Homo sapiens: one gene and its partners. Changing the gene in region 5 together with the main gene of any one other region gives a genetic interaction. Each region holds a gene or a part of one and is shown on either strand. Other genes may lie near its edges. The genes, in order: FUT8, MAN2A1, SEC24B, MAN1B1, ARFGAP2, SEC23IP and TRAPPC13.

Evidence for each region.
Region 1: changes in ARFGAP2 (region 5) and FUT8 together harm fitness less than expected from each alone (positive genetic interaction), as found in Homo sapiens cells (one large-scale study listed by BioGRID).
Region 2: changes in ARFGAP2 (region 5) and MAN2A1 together harm fitness less than expected from each alone (positive genetic interaction), as found in Homo sapiens cells (one large-scale study listed by BioGRID).
Region 3: changes in ARFGAP2 (region 5) and SEC24B together harm fitness more than expected from each alone (negative genetic interaction), as found in Homo sapiens cells (one large-scale study listed by BioGRID).
Region 4: changes in ARFGAP2 (region 5) and MAN1B1 together harm fitness less than expected from each alone (positive genetic interaction), as found in Homo sapiens cells (one large-scale study listed by BioGRID).
Region 6: changes in ARFGAP2 (region 5) and SEC23IP together harm fitness more than expected from each alone (negative genetic interaction), as found in Homo sapiens cells (one large-scale study listed by BioGRID).
Region 7: changes in ARFGAP2 (region 5) and TRAPPC13 together harm fitness more than expected from each alone (negative genetic interaction), as found in Homo sapiens cells (one large-scale study listed by BioGRID).

Annotation. Positions count from the first base shown.
Region 1 is NC_000014.9:65,720,230-65,723,729, forward strand, and holds part of FUT8 (alpha-(1,6)-fucosyltransferase), read left to right. Parts: intron 1-1,545; coding exon 1,546-1,792; intron 1,793-3,500. UniProt on the Homo sapiens protein: Catalyzes the addition of fucose in alpha 1-6 linkage to the first GlcNAc residue, next to the peptide chains in N-glycans.
Region 2 is NC_000005.10:109,864,427-109,867,926, forward strand, and holds part of MAN2A1 (alpha-mannosidase 2), read left to right. Parts: intron 1-609; coding exon 610-720; intron 721-2,419; coding exon 2,420-2,572; 3' UTR 2,573-3,500. UniProt on the Homo sapiens protein: Catalyzes the first committed step in the biosynthesis of complex N-glycans. It controls conversion of high mannose to complex N-glycans; the final hydrolytic step in the N-glycan maturation pathway.
Region 3 is NC_000004.12:109,436,815-109,440,314, reverse strand, and holds part of SEC24B (protein transport protein Sec24B), read right to left. Parts: intron 1-3,500. UniProt on the Homo sapiens protein: Component of the coat protein complex II (COPII) which promotes the formation of transport vesicles from the endoplasmic reticulum (ER).
Region 4 is NC_000009.12:137,089,985-137,093,484, reverse strand, and holds part of MAN1B1 (endoplasmic reticulum mannosyl-oligosaccharide 1,2-alpha-mannosidase), read right to left. Parts: intron 1-3,500. UniProt on the Homo sapiens protein: Involved in glycoprotein quality control targeting of misfolded glycoproteins for degradation.
Region 5 is NC_000011.10:47,166,880-47,170,379, forward strand, and holds part of ARFGAP2 (ADP-ribosylation factor GTPase-activating protein 2), read right to left. Parts: intron 1,373-3,500; coding exon 1,244-1,372; intron 1,165-1,243; coding exon 1,030-1,164; intron 8-1,029; coding exon 1-7.
Region 6 is NC_000010.11:119,906,230-119,909,729, reverse strand, and holds part of SEC23IP (SEC23-interacting protein), read right to left. Parts: intron 690-3,500; coding exon 600-689; intron 1-599. UniProt on the Homo sapiens protein: Plays a role in the organization of endoplasmic reticulum exit sites. Specifically binds to phosphatidylinositol 3-phosphate (PI(3)P), phosphatidylinositol 4-phosphate (PI(4)P) and phosphatidylinositol 5-phosphate (PI(5)P).
Region 7 is NC_000005.10:65,635,027-65,638,526, forward strand, and holds part of TRAPPC13 (trafficking protein particle complex subunit 13), read left to right. Parts: intron 1-274; coding exon 275-343; intron 344-917; coding exon 918-1,017; intron 1,018-2,669; coding exon 2,670-2,754; intron 2,755-3,500.

The DNA of each region.
Region 1 (3,500 bases), on a different chromosome or scaffold from region 5:
TCCCTATGGCCACCACCACTACAAGCCCACAGGGATTATTGCCAGGCTACGGTTCATGTTCACTTAAGGCCCAAGGGCTCTTCAGTCAGCTTGTGGTGAATGTTGCCAGGCCTGGGACTTGCCCTTCAGGGCACTGGGCTCCCTTCTGGCCCAGGCAGGTCCAGGAGTGCCATACAAGAGCCAAGGTCTGGAATCAGGAACCCCAAGAGCCCACTTGGTGCTCTGTTCCACTGTGGCTGAGCTGTTATCCAAGTTGCAAGATAAAGTCCTCTTTACTCTTCCCTCTCTACTGCTCAAGTGGAAGGAAGGAGTCTCTTTTGGAGCTGTGAACTGCACTGCCTTAGATTAGGGAAAGGGTGGCATAAGCACTGCCTTAGCCACCTCAGCTGGTGGCTCACTAGGTTACGTGCCCCCTAGGTCCAATGACTCTCGAACCCAGCACAGCACTAAAACTTGCCTAGAAATTACAGTTCTTGTGGCCTAGACTGCCTTTCAAGTTCATTTAGGGCCCCAGGACACTTCAGCCTATAGTGGTGCGGCTTGTTGAAACTCAGGCTCCAACCGCTGGGATGGACATTTCCCCTCTGGCTAGGGCACATCTAAGTTCTCCCTCCATGGGCATTGGCTGAGTTCTTTGCTAATGGCCCGGGTGTTGCTTGCCAGTTGGCCTGGTGTTGCTTTCTGCTGTGACATGGTAACACTGAGTTCCAGTGCAAAGTCCCACAATCACTGTGCTCCCCCTCCCCCAAGCACACAGATTCTTTGCACCACACGGCCACTGCATGGGGGTGGAAGGGGTAGTAGACAATCGAAAACTGTCTTTCCTACTCTCTTCAGTGTCTCTTTCAGCAATATGAAGTTAAAATCAGGTACTGTGATCACTTACCTGATTTTTGGTTCTTGTGAAGGTGCTTTTTTGTGTAGATAGTTGTTAAATTTGGTGTTCCTGTGGTGGGGGCAGCGATTGGTTGAGGCTTCTATTCAGCCATCTTGCTTCATCTCCCTCCAATAGATTAAAAAAAAAAAAGATTTTAGAATTATCTAATTTTTTTCTTTAAAAGATGTAGATGATTGGCTTATAATTATAATCTTCAGGTGTTTCCAGAGTCATTGTGTTCTGTCATGAAAGTAATGCAAGAGCAATTTTGCTGTAATGAAAAGCTAGAAGTTTCGAGAACACTTTATTTTCTAATTCCAAAACAACAACAAAAAATAGAACTTTGCTAGCTGGCTGTGTCTACTGTCATTCTTTGATTAGATACTTTGAGTTCTGCATACCATGAGGTGTTGGTATGATAGCATGTTATGATAGAAACTTTTAGAAAAGACCAGAGACTTGAGAGATAGACTAACCTGCATGTGAAATTCACCTCCGTCACTTTTGCTCTGGTATTTCGAGCAAGTTATTTAACTTCCTTTGTAAAGTGAAGATTATACTTCTTTAGAGTTGCTGTGAGGATGAAAGCACTCAGAATAAGTTCTTGTTGAATGGTGGATGTATAAGGAATACCATGTGGTAATGATTATATGTTTCAATATTGTCAGGTGAAGTGAAGGACAAAAATGTTCAAGTGGTCGAGCTTCCCATTGTAGACAGTCTTCATCCCCGTCCTCCATATTTACCCTTGGCTGTACCAGAAGACCTCGCAGATCGACTTGTACGAGTGCATGGTGACCCTGCAGTGTGGTGGGTGTCTCAGTTTGTCAAATACTTGATCCGCCCACAGCCTTGGCTAGAAAAAGAAATAGAAGAAGCCACCAAGAAGCTTGGCTTCAAACATCCAGTTATTGGGTAAGAATCTGATTTTTTCCCTCAAACTGTGATATGTAGTAGTTAGGGTTATGTATCTTTACAATATATTGTGAATTTTACAATATGTAGTTCAATTTTTATAGTCCCACCAAAGGACAGAGGTTCTAGAGCTATCCTAAGGTCACATGGAGACTATTTTTTTTTGTTTGTTTACTTAGAACAGCTAAGAAAGTTGCTTAGTAGTGCTCTATTACTGTCTCCAGTTCTCCTCTTCCTTTGCTTCTTTCTCCTCTTATCACAGCTCTCTTTTGGCTTTTGTTGTTGTTATTTTTGAGATAGGGTCTCACTCTGTCACCCAGGCTGAAGTGTAGTGGCTCACTGCAGCCTCAACCACCCTGGGCTCAAGTGATCCTCCTACCTCAGCCTCCCAAGTATAATAGCTGGGTCTAAAGGCATGTATCACCATGTCCAGCTTCTTTTTATTTTTATTTTCATATTTCCCACCCCACATCTTTCCTTGTGTCTTAGTCTTCATATGTAGAGGAGTTATTGACCCCATTCTAAGTGTTAGACGTAAAGAAGGTACATGTGAAGTCAGAATATCAAATCGTATTTCTTCTCATGTAACTTTTGATTGAAATTCAATGGAATCATTCGTTCTGCCCACTTCATCTCTATAGAGCCCACTGAACAATTCCAATTTCCCCAGAAAAAGAGTGATTATGAAGGATGTGGGAAGGAAAGATGATAGAATAGATGTTCATATGATTGTATCCACATCTGGGTTATAGTCTGGAATGCAAAGCAAAGAATAGCCGTGAAGATGGCAGAGTAACTCTGGTGAAATCAAACCTTCACTCCAGATTCATAATAAAAAACTGGCCTTAAGTTTGGCCCATATACTGTGACCTAAAGGCGTATAAGTCTACCTTTTTCTACATATAAATAGTGATTTAGTAATTTGGGGGGAGGGGAAGGCAAGATTTAAGGAGGGTGTTTTAATTTATGAAAATAAACTGTTATTTTTATTTCCATTAATATTGCTTTGGGGCCAGGCATAGTGGCTCATGCCTGTAATCACAACACTGGGAGGCTGAGGCAAGTGGATCACTTGAGCCCAGAAGTTTGAGAAAACTCAACATAGGCAACATGGTTGAAACCCCATCAATTAAAAAAAAAAAAAAAAGCAAAAATTAGCCAGGCTTGGTGACACATGCCTGTAGTACCAGCTGTTCGGGAGGCTGAGGTGAGAGGATCACTTGAGCCTGGGAGGCAGAGATTGGAGTGAACCATAATCACGCCACTGCACTCCAATGTGTGCAACAGAGCAAGACCTTGTCTTAAAAAAAAAAAAATTACTTTGGAAACACTAAGATGGGAGGAGAGAGGAGAAAACTGTGGAAGTCAGTGCCTTATTCAGTACAGGGAAGTGTGAATCTGTGTCCCCAATTTTACAATTTTGGGGCTTTTCTTAAATATGACAGGTGAAATTAATATCTGCTGTCATTTGATATGGTGAAAAACAGAGAAAGGAAATGCATTATGCCCACAACAGAAGGGCTGGAATCGGTTTCATTTACCTAAAATAGTAAAAACCGTTAAAAGGTTTGCTGGTCTTAACGGTGCTGTAAAAGTTTATCCAGGTCTATGTTTTCCTGGGACAACTTTTAAGTTCTACAAGCTGGCAGTTATGGTGACTCTCCAGGGTAAAATAAAGAGGAAAACCCTTGGTATCAGAACTTTACAA
Region 2 (3,500 bases), on a different chromosome or scaffold from region 5:
CAATAGCTTCTGCAGTATCAATTTAAATGATACATCAAGCTGGTAAATGTGAGCTGGCCTACCAAGTGAAAGCATAACTAAATTTAAATAGCTCTGATATAAAAATAATGAATCAGTACATCAAAGATTAAGAATGCAGTTAGCAAAAATTAATGTTCAATAAAGAAGCATGTGTGACTTTTAAGTTAGATGGTATGTCATTCAATGACCAGATAAGGACTAAGTTCAGGTGCAGTTTATTCAACTGATGTGTGTGTTTGAAAAATAAGACGAAAACATAATGCTTTATTTGAATAAACTTTAATAAAACAATATATAATGTATGGACATAAGGAAACCTAAGTCCTCGGGGATTATAGGGGAAACCAAGGCATGAGGTTACCTAACAAGGAACCTTAGAACATAATCTTACCTGGCTCAGTACAAGTAGGAGAGAATGGTAGCAGGTGAATGGGCAGTGAGCATGGACCTGAGGAGAAATGAATTTGCCTAACTTTCTTGCTAAATAAATGTGCTTTTGGATGCTGACATCGAGAGAGTGGTGTGTGAAGTACCATAAATATTTGCTTTATTGTCTGCGCGGTGTGACTGCATTCTGCTCATTTGCAGGTGGGCAATGGGCACTCCAATGAGGCAGCCTTGATCCTCCACAGAAAAGGGTTTGATTGTCGGTTCTCTAGCAAAGGCACAGGGCTGTTTTGTTCTACTACTCAGGGAAAGGTAAGTTGAAAAGGTTATTTTTGCTTACTGTTAGTGTGCTTTGAAATCCTCTTTCTGCAAAGGATCTTGACAATAAGATCATGTTTCATTGCTTCTTTACTGTCTCAGTTTCATCAGTCTGCAAATTAGTTTGAATCTCCCCATCTGAAAAATGCACTTTCTCAAAACTTCAGCCTCCTTTCCTTGTTGACATCAAAAGGCATAGCTGGAATTTATGCACATTTGAAGGCAATGCTCTTGTTATTTCCTAGGCCTTCTATTTCCAGCCTACAAAGTGCCTTGCTCCCAGTCCCCCAGTTTTCTCCTCCCCTGAACCACACATGCTCACATATCATCTAGTTCAGCATTGGTAAACCTAAGTCCTACAGAGGCCAAGGCAAGTTTATAATAACTGAAGCTTATAGAGGTAGCCATAAAGAAGCAACTGGGAAAATTGAGACTGTAGGCTAGTGGGATAATCCACCCACAGCCCAGGAGGCAGCTGTACGTAGCGCCAATCAGTTGTTTTCCCTTGGGAAATAAATGTAGGTCTTGGTCTTCTGATTAATGCAGATTTGCATATGAGTCAACACACCGTGCAGGCCAAACAGATCCTCAGTCTGAACACAGCTTGCTGGCTGCCTATTGTTTATTTCTCTTCAAGTTGGTCTTTCTGGCAGTTCCATCAAGCCTGTCCTTGAAAGGAAACAAACCTCCAATCTCCTGCCTCTGTCACTGAAAGGGCCATGACTCAGAGAAGGCAGCTGGGCTGATTTAGGTACACAGGCAGGTCTGCCTCACCAGGCAGCTCAGCTGACCCAGCTTTCCTCCAAAACCTCATAAATAATGCTGTAGACCAGACTCAAGTGATTCAGTTCCAACCCTACAAATTAGCATGTGTGTGGGGTCCAAAAAGATAAGAAAAATGTGGTAGGAGCCCTGAACCTACTTAGATAGATTAGCTTCTACATTTCTTTTACCCTACCCTGCTTGGAGCTGGTGCCAAGAAAGCACTGATATTTTTATTACTTTTTTATTATACTGTATTTGCACTCTATTGTATTGTTGATGATCTAAGTTTACTTGGTTCTGAGCATTCTGACATTAAGGCCTTGAGTCATAAGGGGGTTATACGATCCAGAGAGACAGATAACATGGCAGCGGTGAGGGAAATACTTTCCAAATGACCTGTCCACCTCTATAGACTGGGACTCAATGACATAATGATCCCTCCTTGTAGTGAGCCTGTGTGCTCTCTCTTAACTCTGTTGGAACAGGAAAAAGTGGTTGAGGACTACCATTGTTAGGGGTAAGTATTGACTAAAAGAGAATGAGGATGTTTTTAAAGCTTCTTGGCCATTGGAGGTCCTTTCTTTTATTGAAAAAGCCCCTGTGCATGATAAAATTCTCAAGCAATACAAAAAGGAATGCAGAATATGTTGCTCATGACCATTACTGGTTTCCTGTTCCCTTCCAAGCGTAGTCTGTATGTTCAAGCATGTATATATGTATATTTAATTCACCCTTTTTTCTGTAAAAGAGAACTTATATATGTATATTTAATAACATATATGTATATTTAATCCACCCTTTTTTCCTCAAAAGAGAACTTCAACATACTGTTTTATTCCTTCTCATACTAATTTTCACAGAATATGTAGTTGTGCTGCTAATCTTCAAAGTTGATCTAAATATGTAAATTTTATCATTTACTTTTCAGATATTGGTACAGAAACTTTTAAACAAGTTTATTGTCGAAAGTCTCACACCTTCATCACTATCCTTGATGCATTCACCTCCCGGCACTCAGAATATAAGTGAGATCAACTTGAGTCCAATGGAAATCAGCACATTCCGAATCCAGTTGAGGTGAACCTGACTTTCACATTTGGATTGAGAATCATTGGCTTTTATACCTTTCTTGGTTTGACGTGCAATAAAGAAGCACATTATTTTAGCTTCTGGCTACTGTGAGAACATGAATTCTGTGATTCTGTGGGTTTTTTCTTTTTTCTTTTACCAGTACAGTAAGAAAAAAAAAAAAAAAAAAAAAGCCATGCTATCAATCAAGATTCTTTTTTTTTAAACTTTCTCCCATGAACTACCACCATCAGTATGAATTGATGCAACAAATGAAGAAATATTTAAAGACAGCCTCTCAACAGATTGTATCTCAGGTTAAATGCTAACTAATTATGTCTGTGTTGGGGGTTGCGAAGAGATTCTTAAAAGTATCTGTGTGTTGATCATCAGTTTTACAAAAACACCTATTTGGCTGAAATGGAATAAAATGTTTGTGGGTAAAAGCTAATGGCCAAAATGGTTGCAATCATTCATACTAGTTAGAAAAATTATGTGTTGAAATAAGTGGAAAAGTGCAATCCATCCACCCTTATGATTAACGTAGATGATTTTTATACCTTTTTCTGATGTACCTCTTGACCTTCTCCTTCCCTTCCTACCCTTTCTAAGTATTTCCAGAAATACCTGATTTTGAATCATTCAACAGTAGAAAAAGAGGCATATTTTCATTACTTGACAATGTGGGATGGGTGCAATTTATTCCATCTTCACTAAAATAGAAGCAATTCCATAGGTACCATAAACCTATTTTAGGTACCACAAGGTGTCTTTTTACACAGCTCATTTGAATACAGGTGTTCTGAGAAGGGGTTTCTATTTTAAAATTACCATATCAAAATAAATGTGCCTTATTTTTTTATAAGTCTTGTTAAATCAGTGTCCATATTACTGTTTGGGGAAGGGGGAATGTTGTGGGGTCTGGGAGAGGGTGGGTACTT
Region 3 (3,500 bases), on a different chromosome or scaffold from region 5:
TGGTGGCAATGAATATGGTTTACAAAATTAATTACTGCTACAATCCCAGAAACTTGGGGGGAGAGGAAGGGAGTGAAAAGACACTGCAAACAACTAAAGCAATATATATAGCAATAAAAAATAAAAATTAAACCCAGATATAAGACCCTTGTTTACATATGGAGTGAATACTTTAAGATCTTTTTTTTTTTTTTGCGACGAAGTCTCGCTCTTGTCCCCCAGGCTGGAGTGCAATGGCACAATCTTGGCTCACCACGACCTCCACCTCCCAGGTTCAAGTGATTCTCCTGCCTCAGCCTCCCGAGTAGCTGGGATTACAGGCACCTGCCACCACGCCTGGCTAATTTTTGTATTTTTAGTAGAGACGGGTTTCATCCTGTCGTCCAGGCTGGTCTCAAACTCCTGACCTCAAGTGATCCGCCCGCCTCAGCCTCCCAAAGTGCTTGGATTACAGGCGTAAGCCACCATGCTCGGCCTACTTTAAGATCTTTGAGATATCTATCAATCAGCTTAGAGCCAGGCTCAGTGGCTCACGCCTGTAATCCCAGCACTTTGGGAGGCTAAGGCGGGTGGATCATCTGAGGTCAGCAGTTCAAGACCAGCCTGATCAATATAGTGAAACCCTGTCTCTACTAAAAATACAAAATTAGCCAGGCATGGTGGCGCATGCCTGTAATCCCAGCTACTCGGGAGGCTGAGCAGGAGAATCGCTTGAACCCGGGAGGCGGAGGTTGCAGTGAGCTGAGATTGTGCCATTGTATTCCAGCCTGGTCAACAAGACTGAAACTCAGTCTCAAAAAAAAAAAAAAAAAAAAAAAAAAAAAAAAAAAAAAAAAAAAATCAGCTTAGGAGGAAATTATGTATTCAGACACAGTCACTTTAATACCACAGGGGTATATTCATGAGAGGACCTGATGCTTCCGGTTAGCTATAAATGGAGACTAGAAACCTGAGACACTGATGTGGCTCTGATCAAAAGGAACTTATTTGAGATACACTAGGGAGATTTATATCATTTTAAATGCTGCATGTGCCCTCAAAGTTTAAGGGTTTCCAGTGACTGACCCGATAGTACTGCTGTATGAATGGTATGTTTATTTACATCTTCCATAGTGAGTTCTAGTAATTCCCATTACTATCTCATCTTTCTTGCATTATTAACAATTAAAGTGATAAAACTGTAGTTTCATTCTGGAAAAGGGCATATGGAAGGATTAAAATATACTTTCATTTGAAAATGAACACCATTTGCTTCCTAAAAGTAAAATTAAAAAGCAGCAGCTTATTATTAAATCTGACTGCCCCATCCCCTCACCTCCCAACAAGTTCATTACCAGGCTATTACTTTAGTCAGTCTTCCTACGTTTGAGGACTCAGCTTTGGAAGGAATCCCAAAAGGCAGAGTAAAAGGTAAGAAATATTCAATTAATGCTTGGTATGGAAATACAAATAGTTTTAAAAATCCATATATTGCTCAATGAAAAATGAAGGATAGAAATACAACACCAAGGAAGGAAGCTTAAGAGAAAGATTTCACAGACTTGAAATCAAGTCAAGCTGTATCTTCGAATAAGTGGAGGAAACATGCTAGCAGTTACACCTAGAAAACAAGTAAAAGTGATCATGAAGACTAGGTTTTCTGCCTCTCTATTCCTTTCTTCTCAAACATCAAAGTTTCTAAAAAGAATTTTCTTAGAGTCTGTTAACAGAAAGAGATCTTTAGGCTGGGCATGGTGGCTCATGCCTGTAATCCCAGCACTTTGGGAAGTCTAGATGGGAGGATCACTTGAAGCCAGGAGTTTGAGATCAGTCTCTACAAATTTTTTTTTAAAAGTTAGCTGGGTATGGTGTCACACACCTATAGTCCCAGCTACTCAGGAAGCCATGGTGGGAAGACTGCTTGAGCCCAGGAGTTCAAGGCTGCAGTGAGCTATGATGGCAACACTGTACTCCAGCTTGGGTGACAGAGTGAGATTCTGTCTCTAAAATAAATAAATAAATAAACAAACAGACAAAAAGTTTTAAGAAGAGATCTAGAGTTGGAATTAGCAAAAATAAAATGGACTTCATTTAATACATGTCTAATGAATACCTGTAACTTGCCTATACTGTTCTAGGCTCTTATTATACAACGTGAACAAGAGACAGAAAAAACTGCCACCCTCACAAAGCTTTCACAGAATTGGTAGAAAATGTACCTACTTAACCTTTCTGAATCTTCATTTCATCTGTAAAGGTAGGGATCCAAACTATGTGTTTTTCAAACTGTGCTTAAAAACAACTGAACTTCTACTTCTATTTTAACCGCAACCACTTTGCTTTTTTCTGATTTCTCTATCAGGGATCTATATACAATATCCTTTGGAAAAACAAATCTTAAAAAACGTTTGTGGGCCAGGCACGGTGGCTCACGTCTGTAATCCGAGCACTCTGGGAGGCCGAGGCAGGTGGATCACAAGGTCAGGAGATGGAGACCATCCTGGCCAACATGGTGAAACTCCATCTCTACTAAAAATACAAAAATTACCCAGGAGTGGTGGTGTGCGCCTGTAGGCCCAGCTACTCAGCAGGCTGAGGCAGGAGAATCGCTTGAACCCAGGAGGTGGAGGTTGCAGTGAGCTGAGATCGTGCCACTGCACTCCAGCCTGGGCGACACAGCGAGACTCCGTCTCAAACAAACAAAAAAAGTTTGCCATTTGCTAACCACTTGTAAAAGAAAAAACAGGGCCCAGCCCAGTGGCTCACACCTATAATCGCAAGACTTTGGTAGGTCTAGCCAGGACGATCACTTGAGGCCAGGAGTTAGAGAACAGCCTGGGCAACATGGTGAGACTCAGTCTCTACAAAAATAAAAATAAAAATAATTAGCCAGGAGTGGTAGTGCATGCCTATAGTCCTAGCTACTTGGGAAGCTGAGGCAGGAGGATCACTTGAGCCCAGGAGGTTGAGGCTGCAGTTAGCTATGATGGAGTCACTGACTCCAGCCTGGGTGGCAGAGTGACACCCTGTCTCTAAAACAAACAATAAAAAACAAAAAACTTCTTTCACTCTACTCTCATTCTGCACAGACCACTTCTGTGACCAGATGTGTGAATTTTTGTTTTTATTTTTCCCCAACAGACACCAACTGGGGGTCCTCCAACTCAATTCAATTCTGACACTACCTACCTGAAGTTAGACTCGGATCCCACAGATTAAGGGTTCAGTCCCACAAGATGGCTCCCCACTTCAGATGCCTATCATAAGTATCACAAGTAGCAGGTTGCCATCTGTACTTCTGAGGAACCAGTTACAAACTGGAGTTTCTACTACCCCCTCCTTAGGTTCAATTACTTTGGTAGAAGGGCTTGTGGAAGTCAGGAAAACATTTAAATTTATTGTTTATTATAAAGGATATTACAAAGGATACAGATGAACAGCCAAATGAAAGAGATGTACAGGGCAAAGGATGGGGGCAGGTGCCGCCACCCTCCCAGCATCTCCACATGTTCAGCAACCCA
Region 4 (3,500 bases), on a different chromosome or scaffold from region 5:
TTATTTATACTGACTTTATATATTTTAGTATCAGGATTACTCCTACGGACTTGGTGGCATTCTTTTCTTGTGATTGTGATGGAGATCACTTTTCTTTTCTTTTTCGAGACTGAGTCTCACTATCACCCAGGCTGGAATGCAGTGGTGCGAACTCCGCTTGCTGCAGCCTCCACCTCCCAGTTCAGGCCTCAGCCTGCTGAGTAGCTGGGATTACAGGTGCGCACCACCACGCCTGGCTAATTTGTGTATTTTTAGTAGAGATGGGGTTTCACCATGTTGGCCAGGCTGGTCTCAAACTCCTGACCTCAAACCTCAAGTGATCCGCCTGCCTCGGCCTCCCAAAGTGCTGGGACTACAGGTGTGAGCCACTGCAACCTCCTGAGATCTCTTTTCAATAACATTTTCTAATTGATTACTGCTACTATATAGCAAAGTTCTCTAAAACTAATTTCTAAGCCGGATGAAGTCATAAGAAGCATACTTGGTAAAGGATGAAATATTCTAACTCACAACAGTCATACTAATAATAAAGGGAATACCAATAATAAAGGAAAATATAAAAGTCCTAAGACTCATCAAAGGACACGGACAGCTTCCGGGATGGGAGCACATAGGGCCGTTCATCACCTCTCCCCTCCTGTAAGTGTCCCTGCTTCTAGGCAAGACACACAAGCATCCACGAAAAGCAGGCGCCAGTTTCTGACTGTTGCATTGGAAACATTGCCGACACGAGAATGCCCAGTGCTGCCATGGCACCACTGACTGCTACTCTCAGCACCGTAGCAGGGGAAGCAAATTCGGGAATAGTTTGTCATGATACACGTCATAGGACATCAAAATCTTCACAACCTTTAACTCTTAATAGTTTACGTACAACGGATGTAATGGGGACATTTACAAATGAAGAAAGAATCAACAGATAAATGATTTAGAAAATGATGGTTTATCCAAGCAATGGAGAAGAGCTATAAAAATCTGTATGAAAGGGAATATTCTCATGTGCATAAAAAAAGAAACAGGGACCAATCCAGCCCCTAACCCTCAATTACGTACACACGTGTGTATCCAAATACCAATCCAGCCCCTAACCCTCAATGATGTATACATGTGTTTATCCAAATAAAATTATTATTATTATTTTTTGAGACAGGGTCTCCCTGTCATCCAGGCTGGATCATAGCTCACTGTAGCCTCAACCTCCCTGGCTTAAGCGATCCTCCCACCTCAGCCTCCCAGGTAGCTGGGACTATAGGCATGTCGTGCCTGGCTAATTTTTTTTTTTTTTGGTAGAGATGGTGGTCTCACCGTGTTACCCAGACTGGGCGTAAGCAATCTGCCTGCCTTGGCCTCTGAAAGTGCTGGGATTACAGGTGTGAGCCACCATACCCAGCCACATAAATTGAAAGACATATACCAAGTGTTTCAAGAGTTGGACTGGGAACAGGGGTAATGTGTGGCTGTGTATTCCCCTTTATACCTTCTCAATGTTCCCATTTTCTCTCCTAAGCCCCTATAACATTTGAAATCAGACAGGTGTGGTGTCTTATGCCTGTGATCCCAGCATTTCAGGAGACTGAGGCAGGAGGATCACTTCAGCTCAGGAGTTGGAGACCAGTCTGGGCAACATAGTGAGACCTCATCTCTATTAAATAATTTTAAGGCCGGGCGTGGTGGCTCACGCCTGTAATCCCAGCACTTTGGGAGGCTGAGGCGGGCAGATCACGAGGTCAGGTGATCAAGACCATCCTGGCTAACACGGTGAAACCCCGTCTCTACTAAAAATACAAAAAATTAGCCGGGCGTGGTGGCGGGCACCTGTAGTCCTAGCTACTCAGGAGGCCAAGGCAGGAGAATGGCATGAACCCGGGAGGTGGAGCTTGCAGTGACCTGAGATTGCGCTACTGCACTGCAGCCTGGGAAACAGAGGAAGACTCTGTCTCAAAAAAAAAAAAAAAAAAAAAAATATAAAACAAAAAAATTTGAACTCAACCAAAGTAAAACGTTAACAGAAAGGGATCTGGCCTAAACACAGCCTCATCCCTAACCAGGTCTAGACAAGTGCCAGGGTCTGAACAGGAGAGGCAGTGCAAGTGATCCCTGGAGGGCAGGATGTCTCCAAGTCAATGCTTGAGAAAGACAGAAATATTCACCATCCACCACCCCAGCTGCTCCTGGACACTAGGTGCTGGCTTATGGGTCACTTGTGAGTGGTGGAAACACATCTTTCAATGGAAAAAATACCACAGTCTGCTCTCAGGCAGTTACGATACTCCATATGCAAAGGAGACGAAGGACCAAAGAAGGAAAGGAAGCACCTGTCGGCTTTCCAGTCAGGAAAATTCAATTTGTAGACAAAGACCTTGGTCAAAGGCAGAAATCCTCACACCGAAGAGTGTGGAGCAGTGGCCCCATGGCCAATCAAGAGCAGGACTCTCCCATCAGGCACGGCACCTTCTAGGGGCCAATTCCCACCCTACACCCTCTGCCCGGCTAGACCACCCTTGGAGAAGCTGCTCAGCGACAGGAATGCTGCCTTTGAAAGGAGAATGTGGGTTTGCTTCCTTCTGCTTTTTGGTACTGTCCATCCCCTCTCTATTGAGCTTATAGAAATTTTAAAAGGACACATTTTCTTGTTAAAGAAATCAAAGGGCCGGGCATGGTGGCTCATGTCTGTAATCCCAGCACTTTGGGGGGCTGAGGTGGGCAGATCAAGAGGTCAGGAGTTCGAGACCAGCCTGACCAACATAGTGAAACACGTCTCTATTAAAAATACAAACGTTAGCTGTGCGTGGTGTCGGGCGCCTGTAATCCCAGCTACTCGGGAAGCTGAGGCAGGAGAATCACTTGAACCCGGGAGGCGGAGGTTGCAGTGAGCTGAGATCACACCACTGCACTCCAGCCTGGGCGACAGAGTGAGATTCCGCCTCGAAAAAAAAAAAAATCAAAACACCCCCACGGCAGTCTGAGGGTGGCCCAAGCTCATGGGGGCCAATGCCCCAATGCCCCTCTTGCTGAGATCCTTAGCCAGTGGGCAGCAGCCTGCCTCCAGCTCCCCAGCCCAGGAGCTGTTCCTCGGCAGGTTACCACTCCCAAGGCCACTGTTAGAAAGCGCTGTCTGTCCCTGTCACAGCCCTGCAGGGAAGTCCACCTGGCGCTGAGGACTCTGGCCACAGGTGAAGCTCCCAAGGCACTCCCACACCTGCTAGACACAATCACAGATGTACCAACAACAGTAACTAACACCCTAAGGGCCTTCTAAGGGTTCCGAGCAGCCACACCAGAGTCAGCACCACCCTGGTGTTCTCAACGGTGTCGGGGATTTGGCTGTTCTTCCTGAACCAAACCTTCACTGACAGGACGTTTTCCTGGTTCTCCAGCTGCCTCCTGACCCATCCCCAGTCTCCACTCCCCCTGCCCTCCTCCCTGACCCCAATCTTCTCAGCCTGGTGGTGCCCAGGACTAGGCCTGGCCCCTTCTTCCAACGTTTCCAGAGGACACAA
Region 5 (3,500 bases):
TGTGGCTCTGAGGGGAAGATGTGGAATATCTCGGACTCCTCCCATTATCATCAGGGGAGGCAGAGTACAGAGGCCAAACAGAGCACCAGTGGCCTTTTGGTGATGGGTTACCAGGTCCCATTCTGTCTGTGGCTCTGTGGCTCTGGGCCCCTCTCCCCTGGTGAGGAGTCACCCTTCTCCACATTGAGGCCAAGGCCCAGAGAGCTTAGGAACCTGCACTAGGCAGGGTGGAAATACAGCCTGCAGTGGCCTAGGCTCCTGCCCAAAAGCACACAGCTTCGTCAGCATTCAGGAGGCCACACAACTGCTGCTACCCTAATCCTAGTGACAACTTGCCTAGTACTACAATGAGCATATGTGTCGGTCTGCCTGGCTTTATACCTACTCTTGTCATAACTATGAATAGCAAACTGCCCCCTTTACTCTCAAAAGCATCCTGGTGTGGAAAGGGAGATGGTTGCTCTCATCTCACGCTGAGTATGTGGACACTGGGCCAGGTATTTCCGGAGACCCTATGAAGTAGTTACGTTCCCATTTTATACGGGGATAACTCACAGATATTATGTCAACTAAACAGATCCCAGATTAAGATGGAGTAGGGTTTTAAAAAATAAGAAGGGGGCTGGAGACATAAAACCCCTGAAAGGAGGTCAGGACTGAAGCATACAATCAGGCTCCTCCGGCCAGAGAAATGGACCCCAAGCAAAAGAAGCTGCCAGGCCCTCTATGATGACAAAGCACAACTCAAACCGAAGCCTGACTGCTGCCCTGTCTAATGAGGCAGGCACCAGCCACTGGTGGCTATTTACGTTTATCAGAAATTAAACTACATCAGAAATTGTTGCTCAGTTGCACCAACCACATTTTAAGGGCTCATAGCCACATAGTAGTGGCTACCATATTAAACAACACAGAGAACATTCCCATCAACACAGAAAGTTCTTCTAGACAGTGCTGCCTTAGAATTCTCTACCTTCAGCTTGTTTAAAAAAAAAAAAGAAAGAAAAAAGAAAAAACAGCCCACTCTACCTTTCTGAAATAGGCCGGATGCTTGAGATGGTCACTTCTGGCTCCTTCTCCTCTACCCTGTCCATACCCCAGGCAGCATCTGTATCCCAGCGGGAGCCAAAGCTTTCCCCTAAGGAAAAGGGATTGTCCTTGTACCTAGGGAGACAGTAGAGTGGCTCAGAGAAGCCTGATGAGGAACACAGCAGCCAAGTTTACAGCTAGAAAACAGCCTTACTTTGGGGGTCCAGAGGCGAAAGTACCAACATCGTCAAACAAGTCCAGCTGCGAGCGAGAGGATTTTGCACTCACTGGGGTTTCCTGCTCAATCACCTGCATCTCAGACAGCACGGAGTGGGAGACAGAGCTGCGCAGCAAAGCAGAGCCAGGCATGAGACCAAAGGATAGGCATCAGCATCACCGCACAAGAGACAATGCCCAGCAACTGGGTTCTCCTTCACGGAGCGTCACCCAGAGCCTTCTGTCCTTACCCAAGCACAGGGCTGGGCCAGACCCCAACAGAAGGCTAGCTGTGTGTGGTGACCTGTGAAGCACACCTCAGAATTCTTTACACATCAGCTTTGTTTATTCCACGTAGGAGTTCCCTGGCCAGTGACGGTTTGCCTGTTATAATTTAATTTTATTTATTTATTTGAGACAGATTCTCACTCTGTCGCCCAGGCTGGAGTCCAGTGGTGCAATCTTGGCTCACTGCAACCACCACCTCCCAGGTTCAAGCGATTCTTGTGCCTCAGCCTCCCGAGCAGCTGGGACTACAGTGCACGTCACCACACCCAGCTGATTTTTTGTGTTTTTTCAGTAGAGACAGGGTTTCGCCACATTGCCCAGCCTGGTCTCAAACTCCTGAGTACAGACAATCCACCCGCCTTGGCCTCCAAAAGTGCCAGGATTATAGGCGTGAGCCACTGTGCCTGGCTCGTGTTGTAATTTTAATATTGTGCACCAGATGCCAGTGGTCTCTGTCCTGAACAACTCCCTACCTTGTGCACTATGAACCCCATCCTTCACTGATGGGGTTCACAAAGCAAAGGAATGGATGAAGAAATGCCCCAGCACCAGGGAAATGAACATAACTGCATCAAAGAATGAGTTCTTCATCATCCTACTCTTTATTAAAAAAAAAAAAAGCCAGGCACCGTGGCTCACACCTGTAATTCCAGCACTTTGGGAGGCCGAGGCGGGCAGATCACGAGGTCAGGAGATCGAGACCATCCTGGCTAACATGGTGAAACCCCGTCTCTACTAAAAATACAAAAAAATTAGCCGGGCATGGTGGCAGGTGCCTGTAGTCCCAGCTACTTGGGAGGCTGAGGCAGGAGAATGACGTGAACTTGGGGGGCGGAGCTTGCAGTGAGCCGAGATCGCACCACTGCACTCCAGTCTGGGCAACAGAGCGAGGCTCCGTCTCAGAGAGAAAAAAAAAAGCACCTCAAAGCACAAAGACTGGCCTTATGCACTAAGACCTAGAATTGCTGTCTCGTTTCTCAAAGAAAAGGGGTCTAGGGTTGGCAGGCAATACAATACAACTCTTGATGCCTCTCATTCCTCTGTCAGGCTCCACAAGGACACTTTAAGGACTAATTTGATTTAAATCAATTCATTAAAAAATATCTATAGCTTTTAGCTAGAAGAACCCCAAGGAGTGATTATTTTGCAATAGGGCTGAGTTGGGCCGGGCATGGTGGCTCACACCTGTAATCCCAGCACTTTGGGAGGCCGAGGCAGCCGGATCACCTGAGGTCGGGAGTTCGAGACCAGCCTGACCAAGACGGAGAAACCCTGTCTCTACTAAAAATACAAAATTAGCCAGGTGTGGAGGCTGAGGCAAGAGAATAGCTTGAACCCCGGAGGCGGAGGTTGTGGTGAGCTGAGATCACACCATTGCACTCCAGCCTAGGCAACGAGATTGAAACTCTGTCTCAAATAAATAAATAGGGTGAGTTGGGTTTAAGTAAACAATTGTTGCACTGCTAAAAAACTGTTCATATGCCTTAACCCCTTGGTCATCCCTTAACCCAGTCATCTATTAACCCAGTCATTCCTATGTGACTGAAGCAGGGAAAGGAGGGAGACCCAATGTCCTTTCAAGTTAAAATGTTATGCTCTGGCTGGATGTGGCTCACGCCCGTAATCCAAGCACTGGGCGCCGTGGCTCACACCGGTAATCCCAGTACTGTGGGAGGCCGAGGCGGGCAGATCATTTGAAGCTAGTAGTTTTACACCAGCCTGGGCAACATGGTGAAACCCCATCTCTACTAAAATACAAAAATAAGCTGGGCATGGTGGCACATGCCTGTAATCACAGCTTCTCAGGAGGCTGAGGCAGGAGAATTGCTTGAATCTGGGAGGCGGAGGCTGCAGTGGGCTGAGATCACACCACTGAACTCCAGCCTGGGTGACAGAGCAAGACTCCATCTCAAAAAAAAAAAAAAAAAAAAGAAAAGAAAAGAAAAAAGAAAGCCGGGCACCGTGGC
Region 6 (3,500 bases), on a different chromosome or scaffold from region 5:
AGAGACAGAGTCTCTTTGTTTCCCAGGCTGGTCTCAAACTCCTAGCCTAAAGCAATCTTCCCACTTTGGCTTCCCAAAGCGCTGGGATTACAGGTGTGAGCCACCACACCCAGCCTGAGAAAAATTTACTTTTTATTTTGAGACGAGGTCTTGCTCTGTCACCCAGGCTACTAGAGTGCAGCGGGGAGCAATCCTGACTCACTGCAGCCTCAACCTCTCGGGCTCAAGTAATCCTCCCACCTCAGCCTCTTGAGTAGCTGGGACTACAGGCATGTGCCACTACACCCAGCTAATTTTTCTATTTTTTATAGAGACAGGGTTCTGCTGTCCCCCTGGCTCAAGCATTCCACCTGTCTCAGCCTCTCACAGGTGTGCACCTCGCCCTACGAAAAATTTGTGTTTTTGTTTCTATGATCAGTGTGAATCATAGAAATAATATCTGTATTATCCACTATAATAATAAAGTATTTTAAAAGCAATGCACTTGTTACAAAAACATTCCCACTGTAGAAGTTACTAAAAATGAACAATTTATCAAACATACACAGAAAAATATTAAAATGAACTTAATACCTTAAAATTTTGAACACCATCATTACCTTTGGATTGTGCATAACAATTGTCTCTCCACTTGGAAACTCTAATCTTCGGTGCCACTGATTAGTGGTTACAGCTTTTTTATATTCAGCCTATAATGGGGGAAACAACATATATTCCAACATGACAAATTTATACCACATGGAGAGAAAGTATGGAGGAAAACGGTCACTATAATGGTGATAAAAATAACAGTAATAGCAGTTCTCATTTCCTGACTGGTTAACATATTTTTTATCACCTTACACATACCATTGAAGTAATTACTCTCAATCACGCCTAAGTAACAGGATCCCCATTATATAATGAAGAAAACCAAGTTTTAGATGGTCTGTTCATTTCCTAGGGCTGCATTAACAAAGTATCACAAACAGAGTGACTTAGAAAAAAAATGTATCATCCCATAGTTCTGGAGGCTCCAAGTAGAAAATTAGGTGCCAGGAAGGCAGGCCACCGTTCCTCTGAAAGCTATAAAGAAATCCTCCTTCCCTCTTCCTAGCTTCTGGTGGTGGCTGGCAATCTCTGGCTTTCCTTGGCTTGCAGTGTAACTCCAGCCTTTGCCTCCATCATCATATGGGATTCTTTCTGTGTGTCTGTCTTCACATCACAAGTTATATTGGCTTTGGGGCCCATCCTATTCCAGTAAAACCTCACCTTAACTAATTACATCTGCAATGACCCTATTTCCAAATAAGGTCACATTCTGAGACACTGGGGATTAGTAATTCAACATATTTGGGGGATGGGGAGACACAATTCAACCCATAATAGACATTTTAAGTACTGTATACAGTTGCACAAGATGACACAACTGGGAAGCAGCAATGGGAGAACTGTAGTTCATTGCCACCCAGGACTGACTTTTTCTTTTTTTTCATGTGGGCTGGAGTAATATCACCCAGGACTTTCTGACTCCAAAATCTTCACTGTCCAACCATCTTCTTACTCTTCCTCCAGATATAGTCTTTCTTTGGTTTCTGCAGGGCACTGGATCCAAGACCCCTCAAAGATACCAAAATCCCTGGTGTTCAAGTCCTTTATATAAAATAGCATTATTTTTGCATAAAACCTACATACATCCTCCCTTATACTTTAAATCTTCTCTAGATTACTTATAATACCTCATGAAATGTAGATGTGATATCAATAGTTAAACTGTAATTTTTATTTTTTATTTTCTTGAGACAGAGTCTTGCTCTGTTGCCCAGTCTGGAGTACAGTGGTGCAATCTCTGCTCACCGCAACCTCCGCCTCCCAGGTTCAGGCGATTCTCCTGCCTCAGCCTCCCGAGTAACTGGCACTACAGGCAATGAGCCACTACATCTGGCTAATTTTTCTATTTTTAGTAGAGACAAGGTATCACCATATTGGCCACGCTGGTCTCGAACTCCTGACCTCAGATGATCCGTCCACCTCAGCCTCCCAAAGTGCTGGGATTACAGGCGTGAGCTACGGTGCCCAGCCTGTGTTATTTTTATTGTTGTGGTTTTCTAAATATTTTCAGAGTATTTGGTTGAATCTGCAGATACGGAACCTGTGGATACGGAGGGCCGATCGTACTATTCTAGTTTCTATAAAGAACAAGCGTGAGGACCTCTTGGGGAGAGATTCAACACAAAGTAAGAGGGAGCCTCTGGCATATCCACAAGTCCTTTTTTTTGTTCATTTATTTTTTTAATTGACAAGTAAAAATTGTTACAAAGTCTTTTTTTTAAAACTAGTAACAGTGAGTATTTGACAATCACGTGAAAATAGAAGTATTTCCTTCTGTTTCTTGGACAATCATTGAGTAACAGTAACAATTCCTCTTCATCAGTCTTCCGTACTTTTTTTTTTTGAGATGGAGTCTCACTCTGTCACCCAGGTTGGAGTGCAATGGCGTGATCTCAGCTCACCGCAACCTCCGCCTCCCAGGTTCAAGAGATACTCCTGCCTCAGCCTCCTGAGTAGCTGGGATTACAGGCGTGCATAACCATACCTGGCTAATTTTGTATTTTTAGTAGAGACAGGGTTTTACCACGTTGGCCAGACTGGTCTCGAAATCCTAATCTCAAGCAATCAGCCCGCCTCGGCCTCCAAAGTGCTGGGATTACAGGCGTGAGTCACCATGCCCAGCCTAGTCTTTTGTACTTCTGACCCTCCTCTTCGATTTAAAAAAAAAAAAAACTTCAAATATAATTCATAATTTCTAAAAGCAAGGCCACAAACAACAAGGATTAAAGAAAGAAAACTTTCACCACCTTAAAAATTATTTTCAGGCCACGTGTGGTGGCTCACGCATGTAATCCTAGCACTCTGGGAGGCCGAGGTGGGTGGACCACCTGAGGTCAGGAATTCGAGACCATCCTGGCCAACATGGTGAAACCCTGTCTCTACTAAAAATACAAAAATTAGCTGGGCATGGTGACAGGCGCCTGTAATCCCAGCAACTCGGAAGGCTGAGGCAGGAGAATCGCTTGAACCCAGGAGGCTGAGGTTACAGTGAGCTGAAATCACGCCACTGCACTCCACCCTGGGGGACAGTGAGATCCTGTTTAAAAAATAAATAAATAAATTATTTTCACTTCTTCATATTCCCTTTCAATCCACAGCTTTATAGTAAGTATTATCTGGTAAAGATTTCACATTTCATTGTCGAAATGGTCTTGGTTATCCTTGACATTTTGATCTTCCACAAAAAATTTAGAAGCAGCTTGCAAATTTTACCAAAAAAAAAAAAAAACCCTGATGTGAATTTTGATTGGGATTGCCTAAAATTTATCTGATAATTTGGGAAGAATTGACATCTTTTATGATAGTGCCTACATGAACATAATGTTTAGCTCCGTTTCTTTTTTTTTTTTTTTTTTCTGAGACAAGGTCTTGCTCTGTTGCCCAGGCTAAAGTGCTGTGACACGATCACA
Region 7 (3,500 bases), on a different chromosome or scaffold from region 5:
TTTCCAGTTTTTCTATAATGAATGCATATTGTATTTACATTTAATTTTTATAATTCATAGGTTGTAAATAAATGGTGCTTATTTTGTAACATTACAATTCTTAATAAATCACTGATGTGTGATAACCTTAGGAAGTATGTAGTATTATATTTAGGAAGTATTTAGGTTATATTTTATGTTAGTATAAAATGGATGAATGTCATACACTAGACTTGAGAATATTAACCCTAAGCAGTATTAATGTTTTGTTTTCTTTTACTTTTTTACTTCACAGTGATGCGGCTGACTAAGCCTACTTTATTCACCAATATCCCAGTAACATGTGAAGAGAAAGACTTACCTGGTATGGCACATGCTTTCCTCTATTTGCACCTAGGGAAAGGTTGAAACCTGAATTGCCTGCATTACCTTGGACTAAGCCTAGCCCTGTAAATTTTATGCTAACCATTTGCTGGATTCTTTGTTGCCTATTTTTGTATCATGTGAAAGGTGGCCATCTGAGTAACAGGCCTTACTTATACTCTACAAGTCCAAATTATGTTGATATCCTATGGCAGTATGAGACAGTTTAAGATACATTCATATTCATAATACTATTAAAATTGCCTTTATCCTCAAATGTTGCATCAATGTATGTATTAGCATTCCCTTTTTTTTTTAAGAATTATTGGGGCTTTCTCTAGTATATTTTCTATCTCATGACGTACATTTTTCTTTGTTTCTAAAGTTTCCATTCCCTGTGAGATCAGAATTTTTTTGACATGCTTTGTTGTATTAAAATCTAGAAGTTAGACTTTTTAAATATCATCTTTGTCAAGAGGTTGTTTTTTAAAATATCTCTCCCAGCTATTTCTTTATATAAGTAAAAGTTATTTAAAGGGTAGATGTTAGAATTTTATGTTTTTCTCTTCATTCAGGAGATCTCTTTAACCAGCTGATGAGAGATGATCCTTCAACCGTTAATGGTGCAGAAGTTTTAATGTTGGGAGAAATGCTGACTTTACCACAGAATTTTGGGTAAGAATGACATATTCACATAAGAAACCTTGTAAAGCCATTACAAATTATGTTTTCAAAACAGAACCATGGGATGGGGAAATGCTCATGATACATTTACCTTTTTTTTTTTTTTTCTGAGATGGAGTCTCGCTCTATTGCCCAGGCTGGAGTACAGTGGTGCCATTTGAGCTCAGTGCAACCTCCACCTCCTGGGTTCAAGCAATTCTCGTGCCTCAGCCTTCCGAGTAGCTGGGATTACAGGCGTGCGCACCGCTCTGGCTAATTTTTGTGTTTTTATTGGAGACCGTGTTTTGCTATGTTAGCCAGGCTGACCTTGAACTCCTGACATCAGGTGATCCACCCGCCTCAGCCTCCCAAAGTGCTTGGATTGCAGGCATGAGCCACCACGCCTAGGACATGATACATTTGAGGGGCAAAAATATTATTAAAAAATCATACTATGTGATTATGGCTTTCTGTTATTAAAAAAAAAAGATATATACCAAAATAAAATGTTAATAGTGGTTCCTAGCATAATAGAATTTTAACTTTCTTCTTTAGATCTTACTATATTTTGTAATGGCCACATAGTCTTTTAACTACTAATGTAAACATCTTTTTCAGAAGCCAGTCTTTGTTTTTTTGCATCATAGTCCTCTCCCAAAATGAGTTATCAGACTTGTCAGCTAATTAGGAACTCTAAATTTATTTCTTCTGTTATCCTTAGCTGTATTATTATTCTAGATTAATAATAAGGTAGAAGCCCCTGGTTCCACTCTGTTTGCAACAGACAGAATTTGAGACAAAAAGAAATTTTACAGATTGTTTTTATAGTTTTACAGAATGTGGTCATTGACTAGTGTCTTGAAAAACTGGGAAATATATTCATGTAAAAAGTATAAAACTAAAATAAAACCACTGGTGATTTTTATTCAAGTAACCTAGGAAATAAAATAAATTGGTAAAAATACCCCAATATCAGTAACTTAGATCTCTTCTAGATTCAGGGAATAAGTTATTTCAAGAATGGAAACTTGGCTCTCTCTAACCTATTCAGATACAAATCCTAAGACTTTAGCATAGGTCTAATTTCAATGAGTCTTATCTCTAGTGAGGTTGGCATTTTGTACAGTAGTCAAAGGCCAAGATATATCATGTTCTATAGATTACGTCTGTATTTTGAATTGCACTAGGTAATGAATGAGTGGCCTAGTGTGAACAAAGGAATGTTGAAGCAGTATTTCACCAGATTTCTATCCTTCAGTAAATGTTTCTCCATTTGAAGTTCTTAGTGATTCTCAAACAGATTATTTAATGTAAAACCTGATGGGCACAGTGGCTCACGCCTGTAATCCCAGCACTTTGAGAGACTGAGGCGGGCGGATCATGAGATCAGGAGATCGAGACCATCATGGCTAACATGGTGAAACCCCGTCTCTACTAAAAATACAAAAAATTAGCTAGGCGTGGTGGTGGGTGCCTGTAGTCTCAGCTACTCGGGAGGCTGAGGCAGGAGAATGGGGTGAACATGGGAGGCGGAGTTTGCAGTGAGCCTAGATCGTGCCACTGCACTCCAGCCTGGGTGACAGAGCGAGACTCTGTCTCAAAAAAAAAAAAAAAGAAAAAAAACCTGAATGGATTTCTGCCTAAATACTTATTTTATTTTACAGGAATATATTTTTGGGAGAGACCTTTTCCAGTTATATCAGCGTTCATAATGATAGCAATCAAGTTGTAAAAGACATATTAGTAAAAGTAAGTAACATTCTTACTTGGGATGTATTTTAGTCTTTAACAAAGGTTTTTTTTTAGGCCGGGCATGGTGGCTCATGCCTGTAATCCTAGCACTTTAGGAGGCTGAAGCAGGTGGATCACCTGAGGTCAGGAGTTCAAGACCAGCCTGGCCAACATGGTGAAACCCCATCTCTACTAAAAATACAAAAATTAGCCAGGTGTGGTGGTGCACACCTGTAGTCCCAGCTACTCGGGAGGCTAAGGCAGGAGAGGCTAAGGCTTGAACCCGGGAGGTGAAGGTTGCAGTGAGCCAAGATCACGCCACTGCACTCCAGCCTGGGTGACAGAGTTAGACTCCATCTCAAAAAAAAAAAAAAGAAAAAAAGGTTTTTTTATATCTATTATGTTTTTGGCACTTCATTAAATGCACGTTTGATACAATAATTTTTAATTGTCATTAACAAGCACTAATGAATGCCTACAGTTATAAAGTATTATGTTAGGCATGAAAACATTTTTCCTATTCCACAAGATTTGTGATTGCTTGGGTGAGAAAATGTACTAGTCAAAGCTAAATAGCAGTTTAGTATTTGTTAATGTATGTCATTAACATGGAAGATGAAAGATCACTGGAGATTATGTCAATCTGGAAGGTTTCTTGGGGGAGAGGGAATGCGAAGAGGATCTTGAAAGAATGGGAGGATACAGATAACAAGGCAAGGGAGACATGGTAATCAGAGGCAGAGACATAGTGGTACACATGTGTT